Linked DNA regions of Homo sapiens: region 2 is linked to region 1. Evidence: fine-mapped expression QTL. Tissue or cell type: whole blood. Region 1 holds a variant in brackets; the other region holds the start of a gene. All regions are shown on one strand. Distances are between the middles of the regions.

Region 1 (2,688 bases):
TATTAGACTCCATACCTCCTTTTAATAATAAATGGAGACATAGATAATGCAGTAGACCTCAAGTCGTAGAGCCATTCGTTGTGATCCTTGATTCATGACTCACTGTCATTGGTTGGTCTTTGCATGACTCTCTTTTGCTTTTATCTATCAGTCGATCAATCAATCTATCTGCTACCTATTTATCTATCAATCATCTATTTACCTATCAATCATCTATATCTGTCATCTATCAATTGTCTATTTATTATCTATATATCTATCTATTTATCATCTAGCCATTATCCATCAACCTGTCTATCTATCTATCTATCTATCATCTATCATCTTTCAAATAATATATTGAACACCCATGAGCCTGCCTCCCCACATGAGAACTGGAACAGTGGCGACACCTATGTTCATTCTCTATCCTGTCCGCTCTGTGACCACTTTCCTGAATTTTGTGTTTATCTTTCCCTTATGGTTTTTTTTTTTTTTTTTTTTTTTACGGAGTTTCACTCTTGTTGCCCAGGCTGGAGTGCAATGACACAATCTCGGCTCTCCGTAACCTCCGCCTCCTGGATTCTCTTGCCTCAGCCTCCCAAGTAGCTGGGATTACAGGCACGTGCCACCATGCCTAGCTAATTTTGTATTTTTAGTAGAGACGGGGTTTCTCCATGTTGGTCAGGCTGGTCTCGAACTCCTGACCTCAGGTGATCCACCTGCCTTGGCCTCCCAAAGTGCTGGGATTACAGGCATGAGCCACTGCGCCTGACCTATCCTTCCCTTATGTTTAACAATTAATATAATTCCCACATTTTCTAGTGATTAGGAAAAAATAATAATAAATATCACAGCAACATAAGCAAAAACACACCCACACATGCACCTGTATATATCTAAGCAATATGTTGTATCATTTTAGGTAATTTTAAAATTTATAACAAATGCTGTGTTTTTACATTGATAAAACACTTATAAATAATGTCCTGAGCCCTGCCCTTTTCACTCAACATTGCATTATGAGTTCAGGCTTATCCATATTGCTGTGTATAGCATATTACATTCATCTGCACTGCTGTATAAGATTTTGTTCGTGTTTGTACCACAATTTATTTATTTTCCTATTTATGAGTGGTTGGGTTTTCTTCTGTCATGAATAACTGCTACACATGCATTTATGAGTTTCTCTGGGGCCTATCTGCTAGGTAAATATACATCTAGGAGCGGAAGGAATTGTGGGGTTGTAGGAGTATCAGTCAGGGTCTAATCAGAAAAAACAGAAACCACTCTATGGATTTTCAGATACTTTTAATTTTGAAATAGTAACAGATTCACGAGAAGTTGCAAAAATAGTACAGAAAAGTACATGTACCTTTCCCCCATTTTCTCCTGATAATAATGTCTTAGATAGCTATAATACAGTATCAAAACCAGGTCACTGGTATTGGCACAATCCACAGACCTTATTCAGAT[T/C]TCACCAGGGTTACATGCATTTGTTTGAGTATGTACATAGTTCTATGCACACATAAAACTTTATTACACGTAGATTTGTATAACCACCACCACAATCAAGATACAGAACTGTCCCGTCACCACAAAGATCCCTCTGGCTGCTTCTTTTTAGGTACACTGATTTCTTTCTCCAACCCCAACCCTGTCTTTAACCCTTGGCAACCACTAATCTGTTCTTCACCTCAATAATTTTGTCATTTCTAGAAGGTTATGTAAGTGGAATCATATAGTATGTAACAATGTGAGACTGGCTTTTTTAGTTGGTAAAATTCTCTTGTGGTCCGACAAAGTTGTTGCATGTATCAATAGTTTTTTCCTTTTTATTGCTGAGTAGTATGGTAATCAATAGCTGAGAAGCCTCACAGGAGGCAATGAGGCAATCCATAAATTAATAATAGCAGGAAGCTGTTACTACCCCTCCCCAGGACTAGAGAAACAAAAGGTTAGTGTCACCAGAGCCCAGGGCCAGGGTCACCTGGTAGAAGTTAGAATCATGGCTGGCTTTCCTGTGGGAACTGGACCCATCGGAGAGCTGTGGCCACCACAGGGGATGTTACCTGAGAGGAGAAGGGGAGGGTGCTGGTGAGAAACACCTTGGCTTCTCCCTTCTTTCCACCTTCCATTCTCTCTCTTTTATTAACTGAGCCCAACTGGAAGCAAGATGACATGGCTGCCGAGATCCTGCTGGAAAACTGAGGACATAAGGGCATAGCAAAGAGTGGATCTGAGGGCAAACAGACTCAGGACCTGCACAGCAGCCTATGTGAGTGTTTGATTTTGCAAGATAATGCCACACTTTTTCTAAGTGAGTGTCCTATGTCCTAATGCGTACCCTTATAAGCGATATGTAAGAGATCCCATGGATCTGTATGTTCTCCAATACTTGGATTGTCTAGCTATTAACATTTTGCCATTTTAGTGGACATAAAAGCTTATCTTATTGGGTCTTGATTTACATTTCACATGAGTTTGAACATCTCCATATGTTTGCTGGCCATGAGCATTTCTTCTTTTATAAAATGCTTTTTCTTTTGTCCATTTCTTTCTGTTGTTTTTCTTCTTTCTTGTTGATTTATAAGACTTCTTTATATATTCTTGGTAATAAACCTTTGCCAGTTGTAAATGTTGCAAATATCTCCTCCAGGTGTGCAGATTGTCTTTCCACTTTAAGTGAATACAAATATTTCATACTAC
Region 2 (2,688 bases), 31 kb before region 1:
GAGTGAGACTCTGTCTCAAAACAAAACAAAACAAACAAACAAAAAAACCGGAAACCACAAAACTTTTTGAGGACAAGGACCAGGTATTTATTAATTCTCATACCTCCCAGAGTGTTAGGCACAAAATAAACATTCAACCAAGACCTGTTGCACTGAGCAGTTCATATATAACAGGAGTGACCCAAGTTGAAACGTAGAATCAGCCCTCTCATACCACTTTTTGCCAGGTGATCATAGGCAAGTTACTTAGCATCTATGTTTCCTTATTATTAAAATGGTCATAATTACAATGCCTAAGATAAGGGGTTGCTGTGAAGATTATTAAATCCTCAGTAAACTTTGGCTATTGTTACTCCTATGATTATCATCAATATCATCAATTACCTTATCTGTTCAATACTGGTGGCACAGGTCCACCAGCTAGATGTCTAATCCCTTATGTGTCTATTAGTGGTACAAGTGGAGTTTGAGTGGGATTTTTTTTTTTAAGACCAGTTCCAAATCATCAAGGATGATACCACTAGTAGCAGCTTGTCTTGTCTGTACAGTGGTAAGTCCTGGCCTTGCCTTTGTGGCAAATACAACCCCCTTGAATTGCTTGGCCCTTCTCAGCATTGCCTAATATTAGGGAGGACTCCTGTAAAGCTCACTGGTTAGAAGATCAAGACACTTGGGCCTGGTTCTGCCCCTGGGGGCCATTGGGTAATTCCTTGCAGTCTCCAGGCCTCACTTGCCCTCTGAACAAGAAAGAGGCTGTTCTGGGTCATCCCTCCAGGCCTGTCCAGCCCTGGCACTCTGTGAGTCGGTTTAGGCAGCAGCCCCGGAACAGATGAGGCAGGCAGGGTTGGGACGTTTGGTCAGGACAGCCCACCGCAAAAAGAGGAGGAAAGAAATGAAAGACAGAGACAGCTTTGGCTATGGGAGAAGGAGGAGGCCGGGGGAAGGAGGAGACAGGAGGAGGAGGGACCACGGGGTGGAGGGGAGATAGACCCAGCCCAGAGCTCTGAGTGGTTTCCTGTTGCCTGTCTCTAAACCCCTCCACATTCCCGCGGTCCTTCAGACTGCCCGGAGAGCGCGCTCTGCCTGCCGCCTGCCTGCCTGCCACTGAGGTATGTGTGACCCCCGCCCAGCCTTTCCCTTCTATAGTTGCACCAACCCCGACACCCCCGTTCACGCCGTCAGCTCGTGTGCAAGGGAGGGAAGCTCTGCTGAGGATGCGCCTCTCCTCCCGGCTCCATCACGGCTCCCCTTAAGAGCATGGCCCTCGGTCCTGTCTGCCTGTTGCTTTTCAGAAGGTGGACTCACTGTGTAACTTTGTCTTCCCTTACAGGTTTACAGAAAATAATCTCACTATGTCTTCGGGGGAGCATTTTCTCACTCTCTGTTTTTCTCTGTGTCTGTCTCTGGTTTCAGAGGCTGCCTGCCTGTCCTCTTTGCTCCCTTTGCAAATGTGGCAGCCTCCTCCTTTCCTGGGAATCTGATCCCATCACAGCTGCCACAGGGACCTGGCCAGCAACCGGAGTCTGTCCTCCAGATCTCGGTCAGGGGTTCTGTTTTCCAAAAGGGACTTTGCACGAACAATCAGTTGATCTCTGAAAGGCAAAGGGGGAGGCTTCACCATTAATCCACACCTCTGGGAAGCCTTCTGTTTTCCTCTAATTCTCCTCACTCCCAAACACCACCTTCCGTCCCCCCAATACACAAATTTCAGCACCATTCTGCCTGAAATGGCACCATCACAACCTCAGTCTTGGGTTAGGTGTTGTTCCTGTCCTGAGTTCCTTGGGATGGTAAACACAGGCAGTAGCCCTTAGTTTATCTAGATCTGAAAACCCAGACATCAGATATCGTCAACCAAGACATGGGTGTAATGGGAGGTGGAGTGTGCTGGGGGAGATATTCTCAGAAGGGGGAAAGGGGGAAGGGAAGAGGGAGAGAATTCCAGGGTCCCCTTCCGTAATCCACCCAAGACTAGTGTCCAGCCTGTCAGGGTGTCAGTTCTTCTTCAGACAAATCCACTACCTTTCTTCGCCGCCACTGGCTCCGTGAACTGGCTGTCAAGTGGACTTCCTTAGGGAAAGGGACTCCAAGGACTCCAAGGGAAGGGGGGCACTGGGATGAGTTATGTCTTCCAGGATTCCCAGTCTGCCCAAAAGGGAACAGAGAGGCATGCATTTTCCTCAGGAAAGGACAGCATTTTTTTCATTAGAGAAAATGTTTTCTCTAGTAATGCTTTAGAGTTAAATTTCTATACGCCCCAAGTGCTGGTGGTTTAGTGAGAAGCAAAGCAGAAGTAGGACACAGGCTTCGGGCATGCATTTTATGTGTGATCTTAGGTAAGTGTCTCCCCTGGATTTAGTGCCCCATCTGTAATGAAAGAAGGCTGAAACTGAAGGCTCTTTGGGGTGCTTTGTGTCCTCTAAAATATTCAAAGGAAGATTTCTTAACCAGGGTCTATGGAGTGGTCTTTGAATGGGCCTCAAGCCATCTCTAAGCCCCTAAAAATTGTATGCACTGTGTGTGTGTGTGTGTGTGTGTGTGTGTGTGTGTGAGAGAGAGAGGGAGAGAGAGAGAGAGAGAGGATGAATATGGGTGGTCACAGCTTTCAGCTTTAAGATATTCTCAAATGGATTAGAGGGCATGACGTGGGGATGGAGTGAGGACTGGTAACAAATGTGTGTATTTGCT

Evidence for each region. PIP is the estimated chance that this variant, and not a neighbour inherited with it, causes the effect.
Region 2: SPARC starts here. The variant in region 1 is fine-mapped to the expression of SPARC in whole blood (TOPMed, PIP above 0.99).

What each region holds. Positions count from the first base shown.
Region 1 is chr5:151,654,035-151,656,722 of GRCh38, reverse strand. It overlaps LOC105378231 (a long non-coding RNA gene), which reads right to left. Exons shown (of 2, transcript XR_944417.3): 2 at 1,274-2,688. LOC124901116 (a long non-coding RNA gene) reads left to right here and starts at 2,218. Exons shown (of 2, transcript XR_007059007.1): 1 at 2,218-2,257. The variant T/C (reference allele first, on the strand shown) is at 1,456.
Region 2 is chr5:151,685,286-151,687,973 of GRCh38, reverse strand. SPARC (secreted protein acidic and cysteine rich) reads left to right here and starts at 1,059. Exons shown (of 10, transcript NM_003118.4): 1 at 1,059-1,109. CLMAT3 (colorectal liver metastasis associated transcript 3) reads right to left here. Exons shown (of 5, transcript NR_109873.1): 4 at 2,023-2,145; 5 at 64-1,592. RefSeq lists enhancers at 291-1,118, 1,119-1,948.